Homo sapiens: one gene and its partner. The protein of the gene in region 1 purifies or fractionates together with the protein of each later gene. This does not show direct contact. Each region holds a gene or a part of one and is shown on either strand. Other genes may lie near its edges. The genes, in order: KIF26B and CBLL1.

Region 1 (3,823 bases):
ATTCTCCCAGGTGGCTCAAGAATCAAATACAGCTTATTTTATGTATAGCTCAAGGTGATTTCTCAGCCTCCTGCCTCCCATCCCACTTTATGTCCAAAGAAGGCTTAGTCCATTGGGCAGCCTTCTGCCTGCTCTGCAGACACGCCTCTGGCAAATTCCATCAAGACGCTACTGCTTCTGTCTCAGGGTTAGCACTGGGCTCTCCTTGCCTAAGTCCTGGGGGGTTTGAAAGATCCTGTGTGCCCTACAGCAGCCCTGTCCTGCCACCCCCTCTGGCCCAGGAGGAGCCCCCCGCCCCCCGCAGAGTTGCTGGGGACCACCCTGGAACAAGTGACAGCTGTTGGAAGTGTGGTTTTTCAATTTTAGTTTAGGAGAGAAAACTGATTTCCAAATACTTGGGTTCACTGTGCTGCTGAATAACAACATTCACGGCCCAGGTGCCCACCGGGAGGCACGCTGCCCCGAGGGCTGCAAAGCCCCATGTTAGCACTGCCTCCCGGAGCTCCCACGAGCCCTGACTCCGGCCCCGAGACAGAAATGAAAGCAACAGGGCACAGCGAATAATGCTATCTTTCTGCTTCTGTGACAAGTCTCAGGTGCTAAACAAAGAGAAGGACATTTCCCAGATCTCCAAGTTAGTCCACAAAACCGACAGCTCTGATGGCTCGCAGAGCTCTGTATTAGCGGGTGTTCAGGGGAAATACAAAACATCATCGAGAGCCTGGTCCCTGTCTAGGATTTAATAATCAAATTGGAGACCAGACACACACACCCGGCCAAAGAACACCTAATAACATACCATGTGGTGACTGATACTCTATATGTTGAATGTATCTGTAGCAAAAGGAAGAAAAGGCAGGTTTTGAAAAGAGGAGCATGGGACGGGCGCAGTGGCTCACGCCTGTAATCCCAGCACTTTGGGAGGCCGAGGCGGGTGGATCACCTGAGGTCAGGAGTTTGAGACCAGCCTGACCAACGTGGTGAAACCCCCTCTCTACTAAAAAAATGCAAAAAATTAGCCAGGCATGGTGGCACATGCCTGTAATCCCAGCTACTCGGGAGGCTGAGGCAAGAGAATCACTTGAGCCCAGGAGGCGGAGGTTGCAGTGAGTTGAGATCGCACCATTGCACTCCAGCCTGGGCAACGAGACTGAAACTCCGTCTCAAAAAAAAAAAAAAAAAAAAAAATGAGGAAGGTGTGAATTGAAAATGAGGAAAGAGATCAGGAGAGAAAGCAGATATATATCACAAACCTCTTGCTTACGTGAGAACTACGGTGTTTCTCAAGGTCTCACTTGTGAAATGGTGGGTCACCTTTTTCCCTCTCATAAGCCTGGCCTGTTTAATAAACTCTATGTATACGTGTGTCAGCAGAGGGTGAGTGGAGAGTTTAAAGACCTTATCCGGGACCCCAGAATGGCAGATGAGGGAAGGGAATGAGGTTCATGAGCACACTGTGCCCCCATTCCAGCCTGCTCCTGCCTGCTCTACAGACGCATTCGCTGAAACGTACCACGGATTAGCAGAAGGGTGGTTTGCAGTGCATGTGCATAATGCTCAGGCTTGCAAAGGGCGGAAGGTCGCCAGGGGTTCTGAGCATCTCCAAAACTTCACGACAGAGGCCAACCCACCTGGGAACACAGTGACACTGGGACCCGAAGCCCCAGGAAGGTGGGCTCACTTTCGTTGTTAGTGGTGTCTCCGCTGCGAGGTCCATTCACGGCTCGTGTCTCCTCTTGTGTCTGACAGGCTGAAGTGTGTGCAGGCACCGTGGCAGAGGTGATCCAGTCTGTGGTCAACGGGGCAGATGGCTGCGTGTTCTGTTTCGGCCACGCCAAACTGGGTTCGTGAGAGTTTCACTTTCTCATGCGGCTCGTTGAGCTCCCTGTCATCCCATGCATTCCTCTGTCTCCCTCCCAGAGTTCTCTGATGACAGGAAGGGCTGCGTTTCTCTTAGGTGTTGAGCTGAATAACCAATAACAAGTTATACGACGAAAACCTATGTTGTTCATTGTAGGTGGACACCCATTCATGTAGGAAAGCCTTCAAGTCCAAATAGATGGAAAGAGAAGTAGCAGAGTTGTTCCCACTTGGTCCAGGTCAGAGTCAAGCCCAGAAGGCAGGCAGGAAAATATTCATTTCCTGAGCAGCCGCTGTTTGGGAAGCAGATAGGGCCCCTTGCACCACCGCACCCATGAGGATGTGGGTTGGTGGTTGGACCCCTGTAAAAGCCAGAGGAGCAACCTCCAAGCAAAGCCCAGAGCCCAGGGCGCGTCTGGAGAAAGCAGTGCACACCGTCGGGAACACTCCAGCGCTGAAGCGTCTGGGAAAGGAGGCAGCAGAGCCCCCCAACAAGGGGTTCATAAATCCCCCCACAGTCCCATCTTACTTCTGACCTGTGGCCATCTGCTCCCCAGGCCTTGCCCTTACACGCTTGATATGTTTAGTGAATTGAGGAGCTTCAAAAACTGTCCCTTGGCAGAGATTCCAACAGAGGCCTTGCTGGAGCTCACAGAGGCCAGTTCTCAGCCAGGACAGAAAGCCATTGCCTCTCTCTGCACTTCCGTCCTCCCCAGCCCTTTCTCTTGATCTTGATGTAAGCAGTGATCTGGGTTTTAATAGAATTTGCTCATGCCATAAAAATATACACAGCATTTAACTTGAGACAGGATATAAAGTGTGAATATGTGGACTTAATCTGGGGGGTAACTATAAAAAGAACCATAATGATGATGAAAAAGCCCAGCCTTCCCACTGTGTGTAAAGCAGTGCAGGAACTGGATAGCATGTGATATTTGGGGTCCTCCTCAAGGTACATGGTGATTTAATCTTGTCACATGTCTGGGCTCTTGCTTTGTTTCTTTTTTTTTTAAGAGATGGCTCTCAGTTGCCTGGGCTGGAGTACAGTGGCATGCTCATAGATTACTGTAACCTCCAATTCCTGGGCTCAAGTGATCCTCTCGCCTCAGCTTCCCAAGTAGCTGGGGCCACAGGCATGCCCCACCACACCCAGATAATTTTTAAAAATTTTTCATAGAGGCAGGGTCTCCGTATGTTGCCCAGACTGGCCTGGAACTCCTGGCCTCAAGCAATCCTCCCATCTTGGCCCCCACAAAGTGCTGAGGTTACAGGCATGAGCCACTGAGCCCAACCAGCATTCTTTATTGTAGCCATTTAGTTAGTAATACCAGAAAATGCCTTCTGTTGTTGTCAAATACTATTTCTCTCATCTTTTTGTTCCTTCTCTTCCCTTTTCCCCCCTTCCCTGTGCCTTTCTTCTATATCCTTGGCATCTATTTTGGAGACTCCGTGGAATGATGCCTGGACACTGAACCTGCTTTTCTTCCTTCCCTGGTTCTCCCAGGAAAATCCTACACCATGATCGGAAAGGATGATTCCATGCAGAACCTGGGCATCATTCCCTGTGCCATCTCTTGGCTCTTCAAGCTCATAAACGAACGCAAGGAAAAGACCGGCGCCCGTTTCTCAGTCCGGGTTTCCGCCGTGGAAGTGTGGGGGAAGGAGGAGAACCTGCGGGACCTGCTGTCGGAGGTGGCCACGGGCAGCCTGCAGGACGGCCAGTCCCCGGGCGTGTACCTCTGTGAGGACCCCATCTGCGGCACGCAGGTGATTGCTTCTGAAGCCTGGCTCGCCCCAAGGTGGCTCCCTCCCCACCTCAGAGGCTGGGGCAGCTCCACCCGTGAATCACTGAACCTGTAAACTCAGAGGCTTACGGGTGTTTACTTTAAAGTGGACTGGAACTTTATGGCCTGCAGCTGTGGGGCCATCGGCTTGCCCAGTCTAAATATTTGTACCTTGACTC
Region 2 (3,823 bases), on another chromosome or scaffold:
AGTTTGCAAAATTTTAAATAAGTATGAAATAACTAAGGGAAGTATTGGAATACTATGAATTTAATATGATTATCTTGACAAATTGTTGAATTCTTATAAAATATTAAATAAAACTGAAAATTAGAATAATTTCTGAAAACTAATTCCTTTGGAGTGTTTGATACCAGTGAATTTACAGTTATTCTAGTTTATTAAGGAAATTTTTGTTTCTTAATAAATAGAACAAAACTGCTTATTTTTGAAGGCCACAATTTTTTACATAAAACTGCATTAATAATATTTATAATTTCTCTTTTTTTCCTGAGGCTCAGAGAGGCTTAATAGTAATTATTATTTCTGAAAATTGAATTATAATCATTAAAAAAATTTTACAATCCTAACTGTAATTTTATAGTAATTTTCACATTTCTTCCCTCCAAAAAAGATAGTTTTGCATTTGCCTTTAGAAAAAAAAAATTGAATTCAATAACATACCTGTGATGGTAGATGGCATGGATTATGCAGTGTTGCTTTGCTGAACATCATAGTAAAGAAATAGTAACAGGCTGTGAATTTAAAAATGTGCTTCTAACATCATTTAATGTATCCTTCTGATTGATTTTTAGATTTTTATTAGTTAATTAACTTGAAACTACCAGAGGAAGATGCTGCTTACGTTAAATATAGGACATACTTGTTATTTTACTGCATTGGAATAGTTTCAGGAGAAACAAGATTAAAAAAAAAACACACATAATTAAAAGTATTCTTCAGGAGTTTTTGACCTGCAGGGGGCTGGGTGTGGTGGCTCACACCTATAATCCCAGGGCTTTGGGAGGCTGAGGTGGGAGGATTGCCAGAGGCCAGGAGTTTGGGACCAGCCTGGACAATTTAGTGAGACCCTGTCTGTACAATAAAATAAAATAATTAGCCTGCTGTGGTGGCACACACCTGTGTTCCTCGCTATTCTGGAGGCTGAGGTGGGAACATCAGCCAGGAGTTTGAGGTTACAGTGAGCTGTGATCACACCACTGGACTCCAGCCTGGGCAACAGAGCAAGATCTGTTTCTTAAAAAAAAGGAAAAAAACGTGTGGGGACCATGGGTGAAATTTATAGGGTTTACACCTCCAGAAAGTATAAGCAAATGCATGTGTGTACATTTATTGGGAAAAGAGCCATAGTTTTTGTCATGTTCTCAAAAGGCTTTGTGATTGAAAAAGGTTATTATAATTAGTACTTAATAAATGTTCATTTTAACAGGTATTCTCAAGTGTCTTCTAAGCCTTATGTATAGGTTACTATATATATATATTTTAAAAATATTATAAGTTCTAATATGCTTAACTGTAATATGTCTTTGTTTACAGATTCCATGCAAGCATGTTTTTTGCTATGACTGTGCTATTTTACATGAAAAAAAGGGAGATAAGATGTGTCCAGGGTAAGATAAGATTATCATTACCTTTTTTAAATAATAAAGTTTTAGTGCAATGATTTATAAGTTGGATTAAAGGTTAGGGAGTGATGTAAATCAGGCAGGAGATGAAACATACAGACATGGCTAATCTTTTTCTGTGAGCCCAGCTTGTGTTAGGTTTCTCTTTAATATAGGGCAAGGTAGCCACTATCAGTCAACTCAAATTGGTCAAAATGAAATCTGTTTGCCATTATAGAAGTATTATTATAAACAAAAAAGTTACTTTTTTTAATGGGACATTAAAGAAGTATTAAGATATATTGAGAGCAAAGACTCCAGAATTAGAATTCCTGGGTTCGAATCCTTGTTCTGCTATTTATTAGCTGTTTTACTGTCATAGGCTATTCTTTATTGATAAAATGAGACTGATAATAGTACCTACCTCCTTGAGGTATTTTTAGGATTAAATGAGGTTTTATATATATATAACATATGTACACAGATACATATATATAGTAGCTGGCATATAGTAAGCACTGTATATATAAGCTCTTGTTACTTTCAAATCTGATTATTGTATTTGGAGTATGTCTTAGAACACCATCATTACATAGTCTCAAACAAGTTATAAAAAGCTAGGTCCATTTTGGGATGGTCTTGAAGAAAACAGAATAAGAATTTTTATATCAGTTCAGAATCGTTGATAAGGAAGGCTTAAGAAAGAATGAAAGATACTTGCTTGGAGTAGCCATAGGCTTCTTAGATCACTTATAACCTGTGCTTAAAGCTATACCAAGATTTGTGGTATTGATTGATAACAAAGCTGTGGACACTTGTCAGCAATGATTCCCTTTTATGGTGTAGGAAAATTTGACGTCACCAGGAGAGAAAGGGGTGATTTATTAACAGCTCAGTGACAACTAATTCTCTTGGCATGTTTTTATTAGCATTTTAAAGTAACAGATTATAACATTTGTTCTATGAATTTAAAAAATATTTTGTTTATAGAATTATAATTCAGAAGAATTAAGACATTAGAAATACATATCACTTGTTTTTTGGGTGTTTTCTCTCAGGCCTAATTTTTCAGCATGGTATACATTCATTTTAAGTTACATAGTAAATTTAATTGCTTCATCGGGATAAAGGATTTCAGATGTGATAAAACATTATTTAGAGGACTTTTAAAGGTTTCCTCTTTTGTATAAGTATTAAAAGGAAATTAAAAGGTACTTATTGTTTAAAGAAATTACTTCCCAAGGTACTAAATGTAACTAATGTACTGAATATTCTAATGTACTAACCTTACTAATGGACTTAAATGTAACAAAGTACTAAATGTCACACCTCACTTATGTGGTCCTTAGTAGCAATTTTAGGACAGAAGCCTATCTGGATTAACAGACCCAGATCAGGAAGTGAAGAAATGGCAGTCAGAGTTAAACAGTATATATTACTGTTCTTAAGCACCACCCAAGAGAAAGTGCTTCACATCTTGTTAAGGTGGAGATAGTTCGGAGTTTACAGTGAACTAGAAGCAAAAAGTGTGCCAGATGGCCACTAAAGGGAAGCATAATAACATCAATAAGGAGTGCCAGCCTTATAGTAAGGATGGAAAGATAGACACAACTCAAAATCAAGAGTATAGAGCCATTTAGTATAGTGTCAAATGACCTGACACACATATTCAATGATAATTGCTTATATATGTACACACACATATATTTATATATAGTGCTTAATTGGGGATTAAATACTGTCACTTTCATTGTTTCATTTGATATTAATATTCTTTTAGGTAATATGAAATAGATATAAAAACATTGTGAAGTAGGTAGATACTTTAACCTCATTGTATAAATGAAGAAACAAACTCAAAAATGGTTCAATGACTTCAAATTACTGAGCCAATACCAGATCCCAAGATCTTCAGATTCCTATTTCAGTCCTCTTTCCCCACTGTGTCAAGAAAGCTGTAATGGCAATTATGGATTAAATATGGTAAATGAAAAATAGTTATAATTTTGACCCTGAGTTTTTAAGAAAATGTTAAGTTAAATTTAGTGCTCACAAATTAGAAAGTTAGCAAAGTGTAAATTTGTCTGACAGTTCAGAAAAAACCCTTCTTTAAAGGACTTTTAGTAGTCAAGGCTTGGATTGAAATTGTTTGTTTAATGTTAAGAACCCTAATGATGAGGCTGATGTTACTTGTTGTAGTCCTTGCAATGTCTTCTACTTACTGTTTTCCACTTAGTATTATTTGCTCAACAAACAGTTATCACTCAATAATACCATACTAGTTTGAATTCCATGATTGTAAGTAATCTACCCGTTGGTTTTTTTCTTGCTGGGTTTTTTGGCAAATGGATGCAGAAGGTACAATTGTTTGAGAAAACTGGATAAATTCTAGGCCTTGGGAAGAATGA

What was found.
Region 2: the proteins of KIF26B (region 1) and CBLL1 purify together in Homo sapiens (affinity purification with mass spectrometry; one large-scale study listed by BioGRID and IntAct). This does not show direct contact.

Annotation. Positions count from the first base shown.
Region 1 is NC_000001.11:245,605,902-245,609,724, forward strand, and holds part of KIF26B (kinesin-like protein KIF26B), read left to right. Parts: intron 1-1,749; coding exon 1,750-1,843; intron 1,844-3,364; coding exon 3,365-3,627; intron 3,628-3,823. UniProt on the Homo sapiens protein: Essential for embryonic kidney development. Plays an important role in the compact adhesion between mesenchymal cells adjacent to the ureteric buds, possibly by interacting with MYH10.
Region 2 is NC_000007.14:107,754,071-107,757,893, forward strand, and holds part of CBLL1 (E3 ubiquitin-protein ligase Hakai), read left to right. Parts: intron 1-1,347; coding exon 1,348-1,421; intron 1,422-3,823. UniProt on the Homo sapiens protein: E3 ubiquitin-protein ligase that mediates ubiquitination of several tyrosine-phosphorylated Src substrates, including CDH1, CTTN and DOK1. Targets CDH1 for endocytosis and degradation.